Linked DNA regions of Homo sapiens: region 1 is linked to region 2. Evidence: fine-mapped expression QTL. A gene starts in region 2. The other region holds a variant in brackets. All regions are shown on one strand. Distances are from middle to middle. Region 1 has its middle 83 kb from the start of LINC00954. Region 2 holds the start of LINC00954 (long intergenic non-protein coding RNA 954).

The links. PIP is the estimated chance that this variant, and not a neighbour inherited with it, causes the effect.
Region 1: its variant is the best candidate, but not a certain one, in a credible set for the expression of LINC00954 in monocytes after LPS (Quach 2016, PIP 0.82).

The regions. Positions count from the first base shown.
Region 1 is chr2:19,780,122-19,792,326 of GRCh38, reverse strand. No RefSeq gene overlaps it. Among named protein-coding and RNA genes, the nearest start is that of LINC00954, 83 kb to the left of the region's middle. RefSeq lists an enhancer at 4,982-6,181. The variant G/A (reference allele first, on the strand shown) is at 5,682.
Region 2 is chr2:19,863,282-19,875,486 of GRCh38, reverse strand. It overlaps LINC00954 (long intergenic non-protein coding RNA 954), which reads right to left and starts at 6,633. Exons shown (of 10, transcript NR_033875.1): 1 at 6,535-6,633; 2 at 5,874-5,991; 3 at 4,941-5,085; 4 at 2,891-3,094; 5 at 2,123-2,355. RefSeq lists enhancers at 6,872-6,921, 11,476-11,976.

The DNA of each region.
Region 1 (12,205 bases), 83 kb after region 2:
AGTTCAAACCCATGTTGTTCACGGGTCAACTGTATAGGCTTTCTTTGAGGACATCAGTCTAAGGACTGCAGTTTTCTCTTGGACCAGGGCTACCTTCTGTTGTTATACAATTCCTGATGGAGTGGGACCACTTTAGGTTCTGTGTGAGGTTGATCAGATTTCTAGCCTGGTCATGGGGGAACTTGTACAAATGCTTGTCACCCCTGGACAAGTAGTCACGGCCAGGGAGTTGGATGAACATAGAAGCTATTGTTGCTGCTTTCCCCAATAAGGTTTGGAAAGGCAGACATTTGAAAAATCCTGCTCTGTTCCATGGTGGAGAAACTGGCAGACACTACCTTGGCTAGGGGACAAAGTTCACATCGTGAGAGGTAAGTCGTGTTGACAGCGTGTAGCCTCATTGGCTGTGGAGAGGAAAGCACTTCACTTCCATTATATTTTTTCTCCAAAACCCATAGCATCAGTCTAATCATGAGATAAACATCAGACAAGCCCAAACTGAGGGGTGTGCTACAAAATATCTGACCAGGGTGTCCCAAAACTCTCAAGGACATAAAGAGCAAGGAAAGTCTGGGAAACTGTTACAGACCAGAGGAACTTAAGAAGACACAAGGCTTTTTTGCAAGGTGAAACCTGAATTGGATCCTGGAACAGAAAAGGGACGTTGGAAAAACTGGTGAAATCTGAAGGAAAAAAAAGCTAATTGTAGCCAATCAATGCTGGTTTCTTAGTTTTGATGAATATATTGTGGAAATGCTGGTTTCTTAGTTTTGATGAATATATTGTGGAAATGTAAGAATATTAACAACAGGGAACATTGGCAAACTCCATGTACTACCTTTGCGCTTTTTCTGTAAGTTTAAAGTTATCTCAAAATAAAAACATTTATTAAAAACACAAAGCAGGTGAGTCTGCATGTCCCCGTGGTGCAGCATCTAGCCTTTTGCGTGCCTCTCACTTTTCCACTCCTTACAGGATAAAGAGGACTCTCCTTTCCCTAGAAGTCCCCTTAGCAGGACTCCATTATTGAGGGTACCAAGTCAGTTTGCTCTTGGAAACATATGGCTTCTTTTCTTAGAAAACAGATGTAAAGTCTGGGTGCAGTGGCTCACGCCTGTAATGCCAGCACTTTGGGAGGCTGCGGTGGGCAGATCATGAGGTCAGAAGATCTGATCACGAGGTCAGGAGATTGAGACCATCCTGGCTAACACGGTGAAACCCTGTCTCTACTAAAAATACAAAAAATTAGCTGGGCTTGGTGGTGGGTGCCTGTAATCCCAGTTATGGTAAGCTGAGGCAGGAGAATCACTTGAACCCAGGAGGTGGAGGTTGCAGTGAGATAAGATCATGCCCCACTGCACTCTAACCTGGGTGACAGAGCGAGACTCCATCTCAAAAAAAAAAAAACAAACAAAAAAAGGTGTAAAATGTCTCATTAGGAAACTCTCATATACAAACCTCATGATTAAATGGTTTACCAAACTGGATTTGGATGGATAGAGTGTCAATAAATCAGCAATAGGAACCTGAATTTGTCCTGGGAATTAATTCTTGGTTGTGGCATTCCGGTAGAATCAAGTGCCCACATGAATCCATTCAGCCTTTCCCTGAGAGGAGAAAAGCGAAGATCGGAGAGGCAGAGGGACAGACTTCCTAAGACAATTGACCATTCCTTACAGAGCACATGTTGTGTGCCCAGCCTTCTGGCGGGCCTCTGAGGATGGGCTTAATCTCACAGGGGGTGGAGGCAAAGGACAGGGCATTGTAGCCTCTGAAGAGGCTACGGAGGGCCTGAGTCTGTGGTGGGGAGACTCGGCGGCCCCGGGGCAGTGCCTCTGCTGGCTGTCTGCCTGTGTTCCCACAGCAGCTGGGAACACAAACCAAGAAACTCCTCAGGGTTGCTCCTGTCTGGACATCAGAGAGCTCTTCTGCAGCTAGGGTGACCAGCTGTTCACATTCGCTTGGGATTGAGGACTTTCCTGCGGTGTGTGACTTTTGGTGCTAAAACTGGAGACTCCCAGGCAAATTGGGATGGTTGGTCACCCTACCTGCAGCTGATTGGGCTTAGAAGGAGCTACAATTAATGGGTCTGTGGTAGCATTGGTTTTTATTGTGACACCCCCCCTGCGGCTTGTTAATCAATGGAAAAGAAGCTGGAAATCATCATGGTATGGGACTCTGGTTCTTGGCCAAAAGGGAATCCCCATGGCCAATGCCTGTAAACAAACAGATGCTCAGATATGGCTCTCCTCCACCTGGCAGTGACATTGAAGCAAGAAGAGGTTGATTCCATGGAGCTAAGTGACACCTGCTATCAAGGGACGGTCTCATTATCTCCCGTCGAGACAGTGCTGGGCTCCGGTCACCAGAGGCAGGGACACATTTGTGTTGTCCTTTAAAGTGACTTCATGGATCTCAACCCATGAATGACCAAACATCCCTGAATCAACGGCCTGTCAAAGGCTGTAACAGGCATTGGACCAGAGTTGAGGGATGGGGGAAGCTCTGCATGACACCTGGAGTGGGGACGGATGTGGTCTCAAATAGCTCCAACAGGGAGGAGAGTATGGTCTGTACACTCGGGAAAGTGTGGTGCGGTAGGAGGGGATGCTCCCTCTGCACCGCTCACCATCTTCTCTCTAACTTGCTATTTTCTTTAGTTCCTGAGGTTTTTCATTGAACCACTATGCTCTTAGGCACCCAAACCAAATGCTGGGTATTCTCTTTGCCACTCCCTGTTTTCAGAGTGCAGCTCTGGCTGACCAATTCTCCCACCGTAAGACCTCTCTCCCATCTGTTTCTGCTGTCAGCATCCTAGCTCAGAGCCCACCAGGGCCACCCCAAAGCTCTCCCTGCTCCCTGCTTTCACCCTCCCTCTCTATCCTCTACCAGATCCATCTTCTCAAGGACCACCTTTGTCATACCCCCCATGCATCAATGTCATCTGACATCCTCCTGACAAAGCCCAACTTCTGGCCCTCCCTGGCCCCCAGCCTGCCTTCCTACCCCACTCTCCTTGCTCCCCATCAGCACCAGGTGTTCTGGGACTGAGCCCTCCATTCCTTGTTGATGCTGCTTGTTTTCCTGCTTCCCACCCTTGCTCATGCTGTTGCCTCCTTCAGAATGACCCGTGCTGGGGAAATCTTCATGATGGCTTTCCTGATTTCCTGGAAAAAGTGTTTCTCCCTGCTCTGGGCCTTTCCCCCAGCATGGGTGGGCCTGACTTTCAGGCTCTTTCTGTGCCCAGTTATTTACATACTGACCCACCCGCTGAGCAGGCCTCCTTGGAGGCAGGACAGCCCAACTCTAGGCACCAGTATAGACACTGGACACTGTACTTAGGGTCAGTGGGTCACTGAGAGAATCAAATGTGATCAGTCCCCAGTGGTATTTCTTGGAGTCCTTAGGCTCTCTGGGTACAGCCATGTCCAGCATGGGCTTTTTAAAATGGCCAGTGACATCTGCGTGGCTTGTGATGTGTCTTGTACCCTGTGTAGGATTAGGCGTTTTCATTTTTAGGCCTGTCAAGGGGAGACCTTGGAGGGCTGGGGCACTGGGCAGTGAGACCTGCAAGAAGGCTCAGGCTCCTATCCTCACCCCCAGCCAACCCTTAGAGCCTGTATTTGGGTTAGGAAGGCACAGGTCTGGTTACTGTCCGGATGGGGTTGGGCTTATGTGTTGGTAGTGGCTCAGGAGATACTGGACAAGCGACTGTCTGCTTTGGGGTAGCTGTATCCCTAAGCGAAGCCACAAGCATCTTGGCAGAATAATTTTATGATCTGGGAGTATCCTTAATTTTCTTTTAAATTTATTTTTAGAGACAGGGTCTTACTCTGTCACCTAGGCTGGAGTGTAGCAGCAGGATCATAGCTCACTGTGATCTCAAACTCCTGGGCTCAAGTGATCCTCCTGCCTCAGCCTCCAGAGTAGCTAGGAATACAGGTGTGCACCCCCACATCAGCTAATTTTTTTATTTTTATTTTTGTAGAGGGGGGGTCTTGCTATGTTGCCCAGGCTGGTCTCAAATTCCTGGGCTCAAGTGATCCTCCTACCTCGGCCTCCCAAAGTACTGAGATTACAGGCATAAGCCACCATGCCCAGCACCAGGAGTATCATTAAGAAGCAGCAGACCTTTCATTCAGCCAGAAACAAATGAGAAAATACTAACCATGACAGAAATAAACTCTTACTTCCAAAAGGAGCATTTTTTACCCCATCTATGACTTGTGGAATAATTTTAACCCCTATTTACCAGATGAGGAGACTGGGACGGGGACGCATGAAGGGCCTGGCTCCGGGACTTATAGGTGAGAGCTCCTGCTTTGTCCCTCCTAGAACATCATTAAGAAATAATCCCAGCTTAAGCAGCACCTTGATGAGTGACCTTGCGATTGGAAGGCAGATTCTGTTGCAGGAACGGTAGCCTCTCTGCACTCAAAGGAGATGTGTGTGTGAAGGAGAAAGAGAGGAGAAGGGGTGTCTGTGGGGCTGATTTGAAGTTTGAACAGCATCACGCAGCTGGAAGCCAAGGCAAGGCATTTCATCCACAGGGATCATCTGCATCTTTCCTGCTATCTGATGACTCAGGAGCATCCATGCGCATTTACCAAGTACCTGCCCAGTGTCAGGTGTATCAGGGAGTGAATTTGGCTGCTTGAAAAGAAAAAGTGGAATAGTTGGTTTAAACAAATAGGGCTTATTTTTCTCAGTTGAGCAAGAGGCCCAGGGATAGAGTGCGGGGCTGCTGCAGTTGTCATGCAGTGTTCCTGGGTAGTTTTCATCCTCAGGGTTTCTTCGTGGGTGGAAAGTGGCAGCTGCCTATCCATGTCACCTGCAGGAAGATGCCAAAGGAAATTCATGGAGGAAGGGGTACTCCTGTGTCAGGGAAGGGAACTCTGTTTACAAAGTGCAAATCGACTCCCACTGTGATCGGAAGGTGGTTTTTAGCAGGATGCCCACCACGCGGAGCCATGCTGAGTTGTTGATTCTGCCTCCGCAGTCGCCCTGCATGCTTCCTAAGGTTCTCTTGCTCTGGGAAGCTGGGTTTGCCCGGTGGCGACCCACTCTCCTTCCTGGCTTCCAGACCTATATGGTCCCTGAATCTCACTCCACACGTGGCCCTGACACAACTTACCTCTGCCTTTCGTTCCTGAGACTAATTGCCCCATTTTTCCCCTCTCTCCTGCTTGTGATTCGGCCCCTTAACCAGATCCCAAGGTTGAGATTTGAGTGCTCCCTTAACCATCCAGGCACTGCCCGGCTATTGACTTGGGCTTCTTCACTCACCCACACACTTGATCCTGAGAGCTGGGCCTGAGTAGGTGTGGGGGCAAAGGAAAAACAAAGATAAACCTGACTCAGGCCTTGCTCTGCAGGTCCCCAGTCAAGGCTGGCTTTGCCCTCACCTATGCTTGAATTCTAGCAGAATCTGGTCGGAGTCATGTGCTTGGTCAGGAAGGGATGAGACAGCTTCTGCACTTTGTGCAAAGGGCTTAGAGGAGAATCCAGACATTCCTCTTCGCTGGGAGTAAACTAGCCACCTGGGGACAAAGAGCAAATCATAACAGGAGTCCGGGGAAACCCAAATATGCCTCAAAGGGGACTGGAATGACAGTTTCTTCTCCCTGGAGGCAGGCCTGAGATAAACTGAAGACTAGCAGTTTTTGCTTACTGAAAAAGAG[G/A]AACATGACTCAGTCCTTGGGAGGCACTCATGGCTCAGAAAGTGCCAACTCATCCCAACCAAGCATTCTCCTCTAAAATGGCCATTTCTCTCCTCTCTACCTGCCCTACTCTTAGCCATGCATCAAGGCTTGCTCAAATATGCCCTTCGATGGGAAGCTTATTCTTACACTGCAGGCGAATCAAACTCTTCCTTTTCTGTGCTTTCTTGGCACTTTTGAAAATAGTATCTTGATTGTAATTTATCTTTTATCATAATTGGGCTTGCTGATATGCCCTCCCACTGGGCTTCTTGAGGTCAAGAGCTATGTCTTTTTCATCTCAGTGTCCCTGGGCCCTGGCTTGAGCCTGACACAGAGGAGGTGCTCAGTGAAAGATGTAGCTTTTAACAAAATCTAATGTTACTGCCAGGGGTTGTCTGTTAGCTTTCCTTCATCTACAATCTCCAGGGTTGCATTCCGGCTGCTAGCTACCCTGACCCCCTCTCCACTTGCTCTGGACCTGCCATCACCACAGCCCAAAGCTCTGGGTTGCTAACAGCCTCTGTCCCCCACAGAGCCATTAGTAGGTGTCCTTTGGGGCAGAGGGCCCTGTGCCCAGCTCTGCAGGCCTAACGACACCATTCCTGAATGGCGACATGGATGTGTTTACCCAGCCTCTGTAACCTGACATGCAGCAGTCCTAATTGTCCTCTGCGTGAACCTGGTGCAGTATTTTAGTGTGTCCTATAGAATAATATTGAGAGAATGAACAAATCAGTGGCAGAACCTTCTGAGATTTGCCTAATTGCAACTCAAATTGTTCCCATATTGGAAATTACATGGCTAAGATGCCTTTTGGGGAACTGAATATTAGGAGCCCAGGAAGGTCAGCCAACAATGAGTTGCCAGACTTTTTCTCCATGAACTCTTACCGAGACATTTTCCTGCAATGAGACATGTATAGGTTGACTCAAAACAGATTTCACAATCACTTTATCCAATTTTGGACGGCTTAATTCGGCAGTTCACGTAACCCTCTTTAATCAGCCTCACGTTCAGGGGTTGTTGTTGTGGCTCAAGCACTTTGACGGGTAGATGGCACTCAGGTCAGTACCCCTAAATGGGGAGGCTCTGGCCAGTCACTGCCTTGGCTCTGGGAGCCTGGACTATATTTGGAACTCTTAGGGGCCCTGGGTCATTGTGAAGTCTCCAGCGAGGTAGGAAACCTGTGATTCTTGTTCCCAGGCGTGCTTTATGCCCTGAGTGGGATGCCCGGGGATGATGAAAGTGAAAGTTTTGTGTGTGTGTGTGTGTGTGTGTGTGTGTGTGTGTGTTAAGATTGTTCCAGTTTTGACACTGTTGTGAGGGGTATCGAGGTCTCTCAGGATTTTTGACTCTGACATTGAATAACAATAGGCTGGCTATCTGCCTAGTTCAGCACCCTCAGGGAAAAAGTAATTTCCTGTCTTTCCCTTTATGGCATTGGGGAAGCCATATGCCTGGACTTAGATTGGGAGGTAAGTCCAATTGCTGATATCTACCTTGTCACCTCTCAGGGGTTGAGGAAGTTGCAACCTCTACCAGGGAGACTTTTTTGTCTGGCACTTTAACTTTGCAAGCCCTTAGTTGTTGCTTGTTCCATGGGTAATCACAGCCATCCTGTGAGAGGGCCCCGGGAAAAACGATTCCTCTTTTACATATAGTGTAAACTGAGGTCTGGGCAGCTCAAGTGATTGGTCCAAGGTCATTCGGGGAGTTCATGGCAGAGTCAGGTCAGAACCAGCCTCCTACTCTCAGTGCGTGGGTCTCTTTTGTTTTGTTTCTTTATTAAGGAATCTGCCTCTCATTTGCTTGGATGAAACACTGTTGAGCAGTTTGGGCTGTGCTGGTTCTGAAGAGTGAAGCAGCATTGCAGGGGTGAGTGGCGTCATCTGCATATCACCCTCAAACCATCCCCGAGTGTGGCCAGCCCGCTCCTGGGTATCTTCCCAGTTACCTGAATGTGGCTGTCGACTCACTCTCCACCTAAACCCTTCAGGTTCTTGCTCTGTGGAGAGGTAGGGCAACCCTGGCTACAGACCAGGTATGTTCAGGGCCCAGGTGGGGAAGGAGAAGGCCACACTTGCCAGGTACTATTCTGGTTGCTTTGCATGAAGAGCTGCAGTCAACGCAGTCAGATTTTGTGAAAAAGAAAGCCACTGTTGCCTGGTTGGTGGGAGGGATGTGTGTGCGTGTGTAGGGTAGCATGTGTGTGGCATGTTATGTGTGTATGGTGTTTACAGTGTGTGTAGTATGTATATGTAACGTGTGTGGTATGTGACTGTGGTGTGTATATGTGTATAGTGTGTGTGTTGTGTGTATGGGGTATGTGTGTGGTATGTGTTTGTAGTGTGGGTTGTATGTGTGTGGTATGTGTTTGTAGTGTGTGTATGGGGTGTGTGTGTGGTATGTATTTGTAGTGTGGGATGTGTGTGTGTTGTGTATTTGTAGTGTGGGGTGTATGTGTGGTATGTGTTTGTAGTGTGGGGTGTGTGTGTGGTATGTGTTTGTACTGCCCCCATGACTCAAATTATCTCCCACTGGGTCCCTCCCACAACACGTTGGAATTATGGGAGTACAATTCAAGATGAGATTTGGGTGGGGACACAGAGCCGAACCATATCATTTTGCCCCTGGCCCCACATACCATATGTGTGTGTGGTATGTGTAGTGTGGGTTGTGTGTGTGTGGTATGTGTTTATAATGTGTGTATGGTGTGTGTGTGTGTGTGTGTGTGTTTGAAGGGTAGTGGTCAGGGAAGGCTTCCTGCAGTGGGGGTGGATTTTGAGTGAGCATTCTCAGCAGGCAGGGTAGTGATGGGGACAAGGGAAGGTGTGGGGGCAGTGGGGGCAGGGAAGGCAAATGGCTGGGGCTGTATCTGACTGATACTGAGGGGCCTGTTAGGAGTCCATGCCAGGGAGGTGAGCTGCTGTTGTCCTGACCAAGCCCTTTGCAGGCGCCTGACTTCCCCGTTGCAGCAGTAGAGCCAGGTCTTTTGGCAAGTGCTCTTCCTCCAAACACTGCCTTCCAAAGACAGTGATCTGACTCCAAACATCTGCAGAATGGAAAAAGAGAACAGAGGCAAATGGGATGGGCGGGGCAGTCATATCTTAAAACTCCAAAATGATCTCCTCTGACTCCATGTCTCACATCCAGGTCACGCTGATGCAAAAGGTGGTTTCCCATGGTCTTGGGCAGCTCGGCCGCTGTGGTACAGCCTCCCTCCCAGCTTCTTTTATGAGCTGGTGTTGAGTGTCTGTGGCTTTTTTGGGCACGTGGTGCAAGCTATAGGTGGATCTACCATTCTGGAGTCTGGAGGATGGTAGTCCTCTTCTCACAGCTCCACTAGGTGGTGCCTCAGTAAGGACTCTGTGTGGGGGCTCCAACCCCACATTTCCCTCCTGCACTGCCCTGGCAGAGGTTCTCCATGAGAGCCCTACCCCTGCAGCAAACTTCTTCCTGGACATCCAGGTATTTTCATACATCCTGTGAAATCTTGGCAGAGGTTCCCTAACACCAATTCTTTACTTCTGTGCACTGGCAGGCTCGACATCACTTGGAAGCTGCCAAGGCTTGGGGCTTGTACCCTCTGAAGTCATGGCCCGAGCTCTATGTTGGCCCCTTTCAGCCATGGCTGGAGCAGCTGTGACACAGGGAACCAAGTCCTTAAGCTGCACACAGCAAAGGGACCCTGGGCCCGGCCCAGGAAACTATTTTCTTCTAGGCCTCTGTGCCTGTGATGGGAGGGGCTGCCTTGAAGACCTCTGACATGCCCTGGAGACAGTTTCCCCATTGTTTTGGGGATTAATATTGGGCTCCTCGTTAAGCAAATTTCTGCAGCAGGCTTGAATCTCTCCTCAGAAAATGGATTTTTCTTTTCTATCGCATTGTCAGGATGCAAATTTTCCAAACTTTTATGCTCTGTTTCCCTTTTAAAATTGAATGCTCTTAACAGCACCCAAGTCATCTCTTGAATGCTTTACTGCTTAGAAATTTCTTCTGCCAGGTACCCTAAATTATCTCTCTCAAGTTCAAAGTTCCACAGATCTCTAGGGCAGGGGCAAAAATGCCATCAGTCTCTTTGCTAACAGTTCCCAAGAAGTTCCTCATCTCCATCTGAGACCCCCTCAGCCTGGACCTTATTGTTCATATCACTATCAGCATTTTTGTCAAAGCCATTCAACAAGTCTCTAGGAAGTTTAAAACTTTCCCACATTTTCACGTCTTCTTCTGAGCCCTCCAAACTTTTCCAGTCTCTGCCTGTTACTCAGTTCCAAAGTTGCTTCCACATTTTCAGATATCTTTTCAGCCACACCCCACTCTACTGGTACCAATTTACTGTATTAGTCTGTTTATGTCTTCTGATAAAGACATACTAGAGACTGGAAAGAAAAAGAGGTTTAATTGGACTTACAGTTCCACATGGCTGGGGAGGCCTCAGAATCATGGCGGGATGGGGGGCAAAAGGCACTTCTTACATGGCAGCAGCAAGAGAAAATGAGGAGGATGCAAAAGCAGAAAGCGCAGATAAACCCATCAGATCTCGTGAGACTTATTCACTACCACAAGAACAATATGGGGGAAACTGCCCCCATGATTCAAATTATCTCCCATTGGGTCCCTCCCACAACATGTGGGAATTATGGGAATACAATTCAAGATAAGATTTGGGTGGGGACGCAGCCAAACCATATCATTACTATACCCTGGGAGAGTTACTAGCAGGAAGAGACAGTCCACCACAAAGACACCTCCATTCTGGATGGGAAGACTGAATCTGCTAGTACAAAAAGTTTGCACAGTTTTGCAGCTAACTTCCATGACTCTCATTTCTCATGTGAGAATCCTCTACTTCTCGATCTTGACATATCCAATGACCTCTGAGGCTCACCCGGTTAATCTCAGAGCCTTGACCTTTTCCTGTGGCTCTTTAGAATGAGAGAAGAGCTGAGTGCAGTTTGCACTCTCCTTCACATCTTTATCAGTAAACATGCAGGAAGCATCACCGTGTCTAGGCACCACGGAGGCCACTGTGCCCCAGGCAGACACAGGTCTTCCCTCTATAAGCCTGAGGTGTGGCAAGGTCAGCAGCCTGGAGGAGTGAGAAGCAGGGTGTGAGGGTGTAGGGTGAGGCCAGAGAACTGAAGAGGACCCCTACCCTAATCCAGGAGGTCACGAAAGGCTAGCATATCACCAGGGAGCCCAGAAAAGGGGCAGAGTGTTTTGCAGCAGTGGGAACAGCAGAGCAAAAGTGCCTGGACAAGAACAGGCATGGTGGGTTCAAGAAACTGAGAGATTTAAACAGCTGGAGCTCTGGGGGCCAGGGAGAGAGTGGTCTATATGAAGTTGGAGAGGTAGGCAGAGAGTACTTTATCCTGTGGGAAGCCCTCTCCTCCATTCCAGTCCCCATCAGAAAGAAGAGCCCATGAAGGTAATGCCAGCTGGCAGTGAGCACCAAAGACAAGGACGAAAAGCTACTGCCTAAATGCACAGGTGATCTGTTGCCATGGGCATTGCCTTGGGCTCCCCAACTACTGGTCCTAAAGCCATGAAGCAGAATCTGTCTATAGGGCCAGCTGGCATCCTCCTTCCACAGCCTGTCATGGTAAGTACCAGATTTATCTCCGACCCTACCTCTAGGCATCTCAAGCACCCTAATGGGAAGAATTTTTTTTTTTAAATAAGGCCAAAAGCCAGCTTTTAATCTATGAATAGAATCCTTTCAATCTATGGGTACAATCAGCTTCTCCATACCGTTTTGCCCACCCACCCCCATTTTCTGTTTTCCCCTTAATTATATCTAAAGTTATGTAAGGGTTTCTCCCAAATACAATTTATGGAGAGTTGATTTTGGAAATGAATTCTGTTTGCTCAGATAAGGGTAACCTGGCAAAGAGACATTGAGAATAATCTTAAAATTGGACATTTTGTGACCTGTTTTTTGCCTAGAAAAACTAGCCTGATTCAGCTCCATTTAGCAGATGGGTAAAGAGAGTCATGTTGCCTTGAATCCTTTCTGTGCTCACGGAGGTGGCCCAGGGTGTGATGCCCTGTCCTTTGCTGGAACCTCCTCTAGACTGAAGCTCATCCCATATCTTGTGTTTGTGATCAGCACTTCCAATCCTCTTTGCCCTGAGTAGTATTTGATTGTAGAATAGGGAGGAGGGAAGCCCAGGTAAGGGCCCCTGTGAGCAAAGGTGTGCGGGCTGGAAGGGATTGGTGTGTCAGGAACAGTCAAGAGGCCAGTTTGCTGGTGCAGAGACACATGTAAGGCAATAGGGAGATAAGGAAGGTGGAGGCCAGATCCCAGAAGGCCTTGAATTGCAGGCTAAGATATTTGGACTTTATCTTCTGGGTAACAAGGAATAATGGAGGCCTTTAAGGAGAGGGTGACAAAAGTGAAAAGGTGTGGGCTGAGAGCAGTGGCGCTGTGCCTTCCTACCTGCAGGCGTTGCTGTGGGGTTGGGTGATTGTGAACTGGGCAAATACCTCAAAAGTTTGAACAG
Region 2 (12,205 bases):
AAATTGGAAAGGAAATGAAAACAAGCTGTAAAGAAAACAAACTTTATGGAAAAGAAAACAAACTAAATTGTAACTCATAAAACAGCCTTGTATAGAAAATGATAAAATCCTACTGAATTTCTTTATTTTCTGCCTATATAAGCAAGACCTTAACTTTTAACTTCGGAGCACTTATTCCATTTCTCTGAAGTCTGTTTCCTGTATGGTCATTCCCAGCTTTTTGCTTGAATAAACTCTTTAAAACTGGATTCTGATCCTTTCAATTATTTCAGGTTGACCATAGCTTAGAGCCATGCTGAGCAAAAGGCTGCCTGAATTTACGAAGCCACTTCTGGGTAGTGACCCTAGGACAGCCTCCTGCCCCCTTACAGCATCTGCTCAGGCTGGACAGCATAGCAGAGTAGGCCCTGTCCTTGTGTGCCCACCACCTGATGGGGGGCTTGAGACCTCAATCCAATGAGGATGTCCACTCTGTCACGTACTCGAGTGGCTACTGGTCTCTCCATTACAGTGTTTCAAACTGCTCCAGCCTGCCAAGCTAGATTAGACAAGACGTGCTCATGTAATTTAATGACCTGTGAGGGTGGGGTGGGTGAGAGCTCTGCCTATGAAGTATGTTACCTGCCCAGCAGGTAACACTATCTGGTAAGCTATCTGCTGGGCAGAGGATCTGTCCAAACTGACAGCTTCTTACCTGGACATGAGCACTGGCTGACCTCTTTAATCACTTCTGTGTCATCAAGGACACTTCAAGCACAAACCTTTGTGTTCCATCTGGGAGGGAAATTTCCCAAACCTTATACCCAGGTTCATCCACTTCTGAAATAGGATAGGGCACAGTTCTGATCCCCATTGCCACCAACTGGTCACCAGGGAAGACAGCTCCAAAGGTGATGTTGAAGAGTCTTGTCCCAGGGACCGTGTCTGTTGGAAGTTCTCATCTATTACAGCCTGTGGTTTACCGGCAACAGACTCTCCCAGTCTCCCTTAATTAAGTCCTCAGAGCTAAGAGCATCCTGTTTTCTCTTTCCTGTGAGGGGACTAGAAAGGACTAGGGGTGTCTGTGTCCTTTGATAATCTTCTCCCCTTTCCCCCCAAAGATGCTCTTGTCTCTTAGAGTCAATCCTTCTTTAGCCAGTAACTCAGGAACAAGGCCGAGTGAGGAACCACAGGAAGGATGTGATCAGCGAGGGCCATTTTGAGAACATAAGCCCATTCATAAACCCGAGGGCAACCCAGCAGCATCAGTCAAAAATTGCCAGCCATTCCTTATGCAAATAACCACTAACATACTAGCCTCACCATCCCAGGTAAGAGTGCAATTTATCCAGCTTTGTCCCTTTGTATGTTGGCTTAAGTAGCGGCTGAACACAAAAAAATAAGCTCGCATGTGAGGGCTAACCACAATCTTCTTTGTGTAGATTATAGGCTCATGGAGGTCAAAAGAATCCTTACTACTGTTGTCTCTCCTCAGGACCGAAAGTTATTCAATCACATTAGAGTCTGAATAATAGTTTTTTTTTTTCTTTTTTTCTTGGAGACGGAGTCTTGCTCTGTTGCCCAGGCTGGAGTGCAGTGGCATGATCTTGGCTCACTGCAAGCTCTGCCTCCCGGGTTCAAGTGATTCTCCTGCCTCAGCCTCCTGAGTAGCTGGGATTACAGGCGTGTACCACCACACCCAGCTAATTTCTGTATTTTTAATAGAGATGGGGTTTCACCATGCTGGCCAGGCTGGTCTCGAACTCCTGACCTCAGGTGAACTGCCTGCCTCAGCCTCCCAAAGTGTTGGGATTATAGGCATGAGCCACTGTGCCTGGCCTGAATGATAGTTCTAAAGGAAGGTCTATATCATGTTTTTAAGCATTAATTGGATGATAGGCTAGAAAGTTGATGTTCTGAAGCTTTTACTTCTAAATATCAAGATCACACTTTTGACAGAACTCTGAATGCACTTACCTAGCCCTTAGTTACAGGCTACAAGTGATCAGAACTCAAACTGAATCAGTCTATGGGCATATTGAGGCCTAAAGGTAGAAGCTGGCCCAGATGGGATGGGCTGTACTTGCTAAAACTTGAGCCCTTATGCCAAGTCAGTATTCCTGCTGTACACACTAAGACCTACCAGGCACTCTCCACGTGGTCCTCTTTGGGGCTTCGTTCACACCAAAGGATCATCCCAATCCTGCAAAACTTCAACGGAAGTGGCAGGGAACATAGTAATACTGAAGCTTGTGGGCATGAAAGGAGTTCTGTTTTGACCACCATCAACTTGGTCACATGCCAATCAGTGTCTGACCACGTGTGCTCCAAGAATAGGTGGATGCTATAGCTTGCACCAGATACCATGATGTCACTCTATGAGAAACAAAGAGGCAGCAGATGAGAGGTGTGCTGTGGATGAGGCACTTTGCCAACTGCCTTCCCTAGAAAACCATAGCTGGCCAGCCAATCGGGATTGAGACAAACTTCTAGCTGGAGTTACAGCTGTGATGTTATACCACCCCATGAGATCACACCTCAGTCCTACCCAGGGGCACTCTTTAGAGAGAGGCAGGTATTGAGTTATATTAAAACCTAGAGAAGATGATACAGGAGTTGTTTGAGATGAAATAAACTTCCTATAAGTAAGACCAGATGCCTAAATCCTGAAAACATTCATCTATTTGCTCCCACATTAATCTATTTGCTCCCTGGAACATGACCAGTTTTGATTAGAATTGCTCATAAAGATAAAAGCAGACTTAAGCTATTTGACCAAGCTGAGATTACTTTTGCATCAACCTAATAGTACTCTGTGCTCAGAGCTCACAGATGTCAGTTAAAGAGCATCCTCCTGATCTGTCCCCACTCTCGCTCTCCCAAGGATTAGAGTGGGGTAGATGAAACTCACCTGGTAACTTCAGCCTCATTGCTGGAGTAGGGCTAATGCAGGAACATGCAGGCCCCAGAGCTGTTGAAGCCATAGTCCTGCTTGGCCATGTGGCTCACCAGCATAATCCTCCCTGTGGGATGCTGGAACATCACCTGCCATAGCTTGTAAGTGGTTCCTGAGCCTGACAGACAGGAGCGGGGTTGACCGTGCAATCAAGGAGATCTAAGGAGTTGAATGCAAGGCAGGAAAGAGGCACTTGTTCACTTACTTGTTCTTACAAAAAAGAGGTACTTGCTTCTCTCATCTCCTCTCAAATGCAAGACAACCAGATCTTTTACTAAGTTGGCAAGATAGAACACTAAAAAGGCCCAAAAATCAAGGCTGACCAGAATCTCCCCCCAAAAAATACTAGACACAGGGCTACTGCTTGGAGTTGTGCAGGCTGTACAAGTTACATAGCTTCACTCAGCAACCCTCACTGTCCCTCCACCACCTGGCTCGGTGTGAGCAGGGCTCAGCAGAGAGGACCGGCAGAAGAGGCTCCCAGTTGGAGGCAAGACTGGCAAAGACAGGGGTACCTCCCCAGGTAGGCAAGATGAGACAGGTGGGGCTCCTGTCTCTAGGATCTCAATAGGCTGCAGGGAATTTGAAGGCTGTGATGTTGCTTGCAGGCTACCTGCACACTGTATGGGAGAGTGGTAGGCAGGTCCATGTGGGCTGGCCAGGGATTGCTTGGTCAGTCCTCAGTCCTACCATGGGGAGTGCATCCAGCCAATGCTGACATCCATTGCTCAGGGTCCTGGGCTTCAGAAACCATGGGCAATTTGATCCTCACAGACACCTGCCAACAAGCAAGCTCTTCATGCAGCTCTGTCTCCTGACTCCCCTCCCCTCCTCCAGTTACAAGTGTCTTAGCCTCTCCTTTGGGATCCCTACACCACATGGCTGTAAATGCAGATTCCCAGGACCTGACCCAGCAGATACCCACACAGGTCCAGTTACATCTCCTGGAGCAGGGATGCAGCCTAAGGGTCACGTCATTCATAGGAATGGCCTTTCTTGTTGGGACCTAGGTTCTCATGAGATATCCTAAGGGCCGAGGGCCTGGTTGGGGCACCAGCTTTGATGCTACTTCTGAGCCCAAGGCAACAGCAATGAGCCACGTGGTTGGATGATGACTGTGTACAGCCCACCTACCTTTAGGCCTCTGTTCCTTACCTGCCAACCTAAATCAAGATTTGAAGTTGTATTTTTAATTGACTCATAATAACTGTACATATTTATGGGATACAGTGTGATGTTTACAATGTGTAATGATCCAATCGGGGTAATGCGTATCCATCACCTCAAACCTTTATCATTTCTTTGTGGTAAGAGCATTCAAAATCCTCTTATAAATATACAATATAAATTATAAATATGATAAATATACAATATACTATTGTTAACCATAGTCACCCTACTGTACAATAGAACATTAAAACTTATTCCTCCTAACTGGAATTTTGTACCTTTTAACCTATCTCTCCTACACTTCCCAGCTACCTGGAACCACTATTCTATAGTCTCTACTTCTGAGATCAGCTTTTTCAGATTCCACAAATGAGTGGGGTCACGTGGTATTTGTCTTTCCGTGCCCGGCTTGTTTCACTTAACATAATGACCTCCAGGTTCATCCACGTTGCTGCAAGGGACAGGATTTCATTTTTTAAAAGTGGCTGAATGGTATTCCTGTGTGTGTGTGTGTGTGTGTGTGTGTGTATCTAATCTATTTCACATTTTATCCATTCATCCAACTGAGGGACTGAGAGGGACTTAGGTGGATTCTATATCATTGTGAATAGTGCTGCAATGACCATAGGAGTGCAGAGATCGCTGACATTCTGATTTCCTTTCAACTTAATCAAATCTTGTTTCCCGAAAAGGGTCTATTTCATGGCTGATAAGGCTTAAGTACTAAGGGACTTGGTTCCATGAAAATATCAAGTGTGGCCTCACTTCATAGAACGAAGGAGGTAGTTTCGGCCCCAGGAGACCCAGCATTCTGGCTGGGGTTACCTGTGCTCACCTCCATGTAGTTCCCTTCAGAGAATCTTCCTCGAGGCCCATGTGAAATAGGGACAGGACATGGTATAGTTGTAGGTGGTTTCTTCACCAGCTTCCATGAACCCAGACACCTCGATGTTCACACTGAGGGAAAACCATCTATTATCCTGGAAGAAGGGCAAGAAAGCACCGAAGTCCCAGGGAAGATGAGGCAAGAATCAAATAGGGAGGTTTGGCCCAGTCCCACCTGGCTCAGTGGGACTGAGGTACGGGTCTCTTGTTAGTAGACAGACGGCTGGAGGTGTGCAGGGAAGGGAGCATGATGAAATAGAGCAGGTAGAGATGCACAGAAGAGACTTAGGATTTAGTGATCTGACACTAATCTCACCTCTGTTCTGTTGAAGTGCTCCTGCTAGCTCCCTATACCTTTGAACCCCTAAATCCAGGCATAGCTGGGGCCCCAGTCTCCCCGTCCACCTTGCTGACATCGTAGCCAGGTTAAACCCTGCTATCCCACGAGTCTCCTTCTGATTGCTCTCATCTGCAGTTCTACCCCATGCCTCATCTGAGCGCAAGGTGCCTGCATGCGGCTTCCTCTAAACTCCTACAGCTTTGGGCCTCCTGCCACACTCTGGCAGTTCCCAGCTGTCAGTTACAGCCACCTGGAAATGCTCTTTTTTTTTTTTTTTTTGGTCCACCTTACAAAGGTGATCTATTCATTAGAGGTCAATCCTGGCAAGGCAAAGATGGAACTGTGGTCTCTGTTCTTAGACACAAGAGGACTCTGCAGCTGTGAAGACAGCCTGTGCCAGGCGGAAGCGATCTGCATCCAGGAGGGGATGCTGGATTCCCCAAATGTCCTCAGTGCTGAGGGCAGGGCCAGATTTCTTCCATATGAATCTTGGACACCTGTTTCCTGGGCAATTGAACAAGGGCATCTCAGAAGCTTGCTCACCTGGTTGACCACATGACAGGCCAGTACAGAGGCCCTGAAGGTTTCCCCAGGCGTCTTCAGACAACACGTAGCCACAGCGTGGGGCCACGGGAGGTGCGGCAGCTGGGCATCCAGGGGTCTGCAGTGGAAGGAGTATGGTCACCTGCCAGCCTGGAGGAGCCTGGGGGTCCTCAGAGTCCCTGGCACCAGAATCACTTAAGGCAACGCTGAGGGCTGGTCCCAGGGAAGCAGACCCAGGGCGTCTCATAGCGGGTGGGGACAGGCAGATGGGTGGGAGAACCGATGCTGGGCGGCAGGCTGTGGGGGGCAGCTGCGCGATTCTGTATCCTTGCTGGACCCCAGGCAGGCCAGTCTTTCTGGGTTGGGCGGGCTAGCAGGGAACCTGGGTGGGCTGGGGGTCAGGAGGTTGTTTTGGGGACACCGGGCTGCAAAAACCCATGAGTCCTTCCCCTGTCACCAGTAACTTCCGCGTAGAAGGCTTTGTTGTCTAGAGAGCCTCATCCGGAAGATGCCGGCGGGGCAGCTGCTCTCCACGAAGCCTGTGAAGCCCGGGTCGGTTCGGGTCAGTTAGAGAAGGCGCGGCCCCTCCCTGCTGCCCTGTGGGAACTCCACGTGGGAAACGGGGGGCTTGGCGGGCACTTGCATCCCATCCTTCACTGACCTGGGCGGAGCGAGAGGGTCGCTTGAGCGCCGAGGCCGGGGCCATGGCGACAGGAGCAGAAAGAAGAGCCTAGGCAGGAGAAGCGGGCGGGTTGGGCACGGCGAGGAGGAGCAGGAGGGGGCGGAGAGTGGGACGACCGGGCCACACCTACCCTGCAAGCAAGGGGCCCGCGGCGGGGACTCCACTACTGGGCTGGGGCGGGTCACGCGCTGCCCGGGGCTTTATCCGCGAGGCCTCCCAGGCGCTCCACCAGGTGTGGAAGCCAGGTCAGGTGCGCTCCGCCCGGGTGAGCTGCACTTCACTGCGGTACCCCAGCCTCAAAATTCCCCGTACAGTTCTGGGAGCCCTTCACGGCTATGCCCTAGGTGGACTTCACACTTCTGGGACAAATTAAGAGTGTCCTAGGATTCTTGGATTCAGCTGTTAAAAAGAAAAAATAAAATCTTCGGTTTTTCTTAAAATGTGTTTTAAGCATAAAAAATACATAATACAAATGCACAGTTTAAGGAAGTGATTCTACAGCAATCACATCATGTTCTTGATCACCCACAGCGAAGTATTGCTGGCACCCCTAAACCTCCCCTGCCTCCTCCTCAGTGGTCCCGATTTATTCAACTAGCCTTATCTGTTCTCCCGGTTTTAACATCACTTTCACGGCTGCGGAACTTCTGTGCAGAATTGTTCCCATTCTCTTGAAGGCTTAGGTTGTTTGCACTATTTAGATGTTATAAATAATGCTGAGACAAATATTTGTTCACAAGGATGATTTCCTTAGGATAAATTCTCAGTACAGATGAGGAATTTTCAGCCAATAGCCATCTTTATTTTCAAGGTTCTTGGAATATGTTGCCACAGTTTCCCCCCAAAGAGTTTTGCCAATTAACCATCCATCGGCAAGTCAAATCAATAAGTGCCTACCCTGAGCCAGTCCCAGGGAATAAATGGCAGATCCATGTTTAAGTCTCAGTTCCATCACATCCTTGCCAGCATTTGGTTTTAGTTTTCTGAGATTAAACAAATTTTTTAGTTTGCATCTCTCTGACGTTAGAAAGGCAAAACTCCCACGTGTGTCTGCTTGCTAATTAGAGCATCTTCTAATTGTATGTGTGAACTGTCCATTTACTTCTTGGGATGTTGATGTTGACCTGAGGCACTTGGATGTATTCTTTATGTGGTAGAGATAGTTGCCCTTTGCCATTTTTGTATGTTTTCAGAGCTGAGTGAGACCTGGAATTCACGTGGTCCAAACTCCTTACCATGGGTTGAACCGTGAGCCTCCCTCCGCTCCCCTCCACCCCAATTCTGCCACAAAGATATGTTCATTACCTAACCTTTAGAACCTGTGAATGTGACCTTATTTGGAAACATAGCCTTTGCAGAAGTAATTGGGAGTCTGAGAAGAAGAGTTCATCCTGGATCATCTGGGTGGATCCTAAATCCAATGTAAGTGTTCTTTTAAGAGAAAGGCAGAAGGAGACTTGGGATAGAAGAGTGGACAGCAGTGATGTGAAGACAGAAGCAGAGACTGGAGTTCTGCTGCCGCAAGCCAAGGAACACCTGCATTCACCAGAAGCTGGAAGAGGCCAGGAAAGATTCCTCGAGGCTTTGGAGGCCCTTTCCACAAGTTGGTGTCAGATTTCTGGCCTCCGGAACTGGGAGAGAATAAATTTCTGTCGTTTGAAGTCACCAAGTTTGTGATGCTTTGTTGCAGAGGGCCTAGAACAGGGATACAGCCTCCATTTTGCAGGTGGGAAGGACATGAGGGCCCAGGCTTATTCAGGGTCATTACTAAGTCCAGAGTTGAGATCCTAACCCAGGGTTCTTTGTCTCCTAGGCCATGAGACCAGGTGGAACATTTTCCCCCAGATGCCTCTCTGGTGTGCAACTGAGACTTCCACGGGGAACTCTGTAGCTGTAGGAATGGAGTGGGTGAAGTGAGCTCACACACTGATGAGCTCAGACCGTGAGTGCAAGGACCTAGGCTCTAGTTCTGGCTCTGCCACTTATTAACCTTGTGCTCTCAAATGAGTTATGTGTGGGCCTCCTAACAGTCTGAATAGCATCCTGTTGCTGCAGCTCCATGGTCTTTGCTTAGTGCCCTTGAGTTGTTGAGATGTGCAGACTTGTTTTACTCCATGGATGCTTTACAAGTGTTGCCTCTTTAGGGGTAGTGGCTACATGAGCAGAAATGGCACCATACTTTCATTTCTATTTGGTGGCTACTTCTCTTGATGCTTTAACTGTTACTCATACCCCTAAATCAGCTAGAGGGATTTGGGACACACCGCCCTATAACATGAAGCCTGTAGAAACTGAGTACTTGGACAGGACAAGAAAAGACAGGGATTTCTTTTCTTTTTTGAGACACAGTCTCACTCTGTTGCCAAGGCTGGAGTGCAGTGGCGCAATCTTGGCTCACTGCAGCCTCAGCCTCCCAGGTTCCAGTGATTCTCCTGCCTCAGCCTCCTGAGTAGCTGGGATTACAGGTGGGCACCACCATGCCCGGCTGATTTTTGTATTTATAGTAGAGTCGGGGTTTCACTGTGTTGGCCAGGGTGGTCTTGAACTCCTAATCTCAGGTGATCCACCCACCTCTGCCTCTCAAAGTGCTGGAATTACAGGTGTGAGCCACTGTGCCCGGCCAAGACATGGATTTCTAAGTGCTGTATAGCTGGGTATGGTCTCATTTAAGGATTCTGCAAAAAGATCTAGTGCTAGCTTGTCCACTGATAGACACTAGCATATGCAACTACTGAACACTTGAAGTGTCACCAGTGTTACTGAGGAACTGAATTTCTCATTTGAATTCATTTAAAATAAAAAATACTGGCTGGGCACAGTGGCTCACGCCTACAATCTCAGCATTTTGGAAGGCCCAGGTGGGAGGATCACTTGAGCCCAGGAGTTCAAGACCAACCTGGACAACATCGTGAGACCTCATGTCTACAAAAAAATAGAAAAAAAAAAAAAAAAAGCTGGGGATGGTGGTGCATGCCTGTGGTCCCAGCTACTCAGGAAGCTGAGGTGGGAGGATTGCTTGAGCCTGGGAAGTCAAGGCTGCAGTGAGCTATGATCTCACCACTGCACTCCAGCCTGGGTGACAGAGCAAGACCCTATCTCCAAAAACAACAACAACAACAACAAACCCAAAGCCAACAATTCAGTTACTAAAAAATTTTAAAGTACGGCAGTGGAGTGGGTGAAATGAACTCACACTTCATGTGAACACTTTGTTTGGAACAACAAATTCACATTTAAAGTATGTGAATCTGCCACTGCAAAGTTTATGAAATCTAAATACAGATCAAGTATTTTCAATGAAAATTTAGCACCCAAACTGAGATGGGCTGTTAAGTGTTAAATATATACCAGATTTTTAAGAGTTAGTATAAATAAAAGAATGTAAAGTACCTCTAACATTTTCATATTGTGTCAAGATGATAATATTTTAGATATACTGGGTCAAATAAAATAATGTTAAACAATTTCACCTGCTTCTACCACTTACTCGCTCTGTGGTTTTGGGCAATTCCCCTAAACTCTCCAGGCCTCTGTTTCTGCTTATCTAAAGTCACTGAGTGGAAAGGCCCTGCAGGCTCATCTCAGGCTGTGGCTGAGGGAGGATGAGGACACTTAGTGGGAGGGGTAGTTCTGCAGCCATACTGTAAGGCTGGGTCTTGGGAGGGGTCACAGCCCCTAGTACAACAGGAATGCCCACCCCCACCGCTAGCATGAGGGTACATCTTCCCAGGGCTTGAAAGTAAGATTTACTTGACACACTCTGCCTAAGAATTGGCTCTGAGCTTGGTTTGTTGGTTCTGTCGAAGGTAGTAACAACCGCATCCTTCTAGCTTCTTGAGCCCTTCCTTCCTCTCCACTGAGCTTCTGAGCTGGGTGGGCCTAGGACCCTCCCTGTCCTCTGTCCCTGGGCTCCAGGGCCCTGCCTTGGACCTGCCTGAGTAAGGGAACAAGTAGAGGGGCCTGCCCTGCTCTTCTCTGGGCTTTCCCAGTCTTCTCTAGGCGGCTGGAGGGGTGGGGATGAGGGCAACAGGGGACAGCAGCTTCTAGGATGGATACTTGGGGTTCCAGGCTGGATAATTGTGCTGGTGGTGGGGGGATCGGTGTGAACTTGACCCTGAGGCAGTCAGCAAGGGGCCCTGGGCAGCTTGCACGTGTATGTTTTGGTGTGGGGGTGTGATCAGGTCTGTGTGAGAGGAAGGGCAGAGGCTTTGCAGAACAGCAGAGGCAGATGTCTCTGATTTTGATCACTTAGTTCCACATACCTGGGGCTGCCTGAGATACGGTGCAGCTGTTTTCTGTCGTGCTGATATGCAGACAAAGCTAAAGAAGAGCCCGCGACCACTGAGCACCTGTTACGGGAAAGGTACCACGTGGGGAGCTTTAAGCACCTGCCATCATCGAATCTCCGTGGTAACCCAAGAGAGGAAAGGCCCCATAGAGAATTTCCCGAGGCTGCAGAGCTGGGCGGGGCAGAGATCGGATTTGAACCCAGCTGTCTGATATCAAGGCTTGGGGTCTTGAAGACAAATGGCTTACCCAGGGTGGGGTGGCTCACGCCTGTAATCCCAGCACTTTGGGAGGCCCCAGGCGGGCGGATCACTTGAGGCCAGGAGTTTGTGACCAGTCTGGCCAACATGATGAAACCCCATCTCTACTAAAAATACAAAAATTAGCTTGGTGTGGTGGTAGGTACTTGTAATCCCAGCTACTCGGGAGGCTGAGGCAGGAGAATCGCTGGAATCTGGGAGGCAGAGGCTGCAGTGAGCCGAGATCGCGCCATTGCACTCCAGTGTGGGCGACAGAGTGAGACTCCATCTCAAAAAACAAAACAAAACAAAACCACACACACACAAAACACAAACAAACAAAAAACAAGTTGCTCACCCTTAGCTGCACGTGTCCTCAGAAGCGGTTCACTATAACCCCAGTGGCCCTGGCTTCAGGGATGGGAATCGGGGAGGGGCCAGTCCTGGAGCAGAGCCTGGCCTGGAGCCCAGGTGGCGCTGAGTTCGCTCTGCTCCTGACGCCAGTCCCTGGACCCTGCGGTGTGTGTTCCCAGGGCGGGCAGGAAGGCTCTTAGAGGGTGAGCCAGGCTGTCCACAGGCGGCCTGAGGGGTCTGAATGGGAGGGCCAAGCGGCCTAACTCATGCGCGGTTTGCTCTTTAAACAGCTGCGCAGGTAGTCAGATGGCCTGTGAAGGTGGAGAAGGCCTTGCTGTCCCTCCTGGGACCGGGAGTCTCAACTTGCAGTCCAGAGGACATGGGACTCAAATCGGACTCGGCCACCGCCTCCTGGCCTGAGGCTGGCGGATCAGACGCTGCTGCCACCCGCCTTTGGGCTCGAGCAGGTCATTTTCCACATGGCCACTGGGTGTCGCCCTCGCTCCACGAGTGGGCCGCCCTCGCCTCTGTCCCCGGCTCCTTGAGCGCCTACTGTGTGCTGGCCTGTCCCGCGCGGGGAGGTGGCCCCTTGGCCAGGCTCTGTTCTGAAGGCAGATGGGCCTGACTCAGCCAGAGATGGTGCTGTTGCTCCCTGTAAACGCAAGCTGTTTGCAGACAACAGCAGGATGTATCCCGACTGTGTAAGAGCATGCTTTTCTGTGGATGGTATGGTTTGGCTCTGTGTCCCCACCCAAATCTCGTGTTGAATT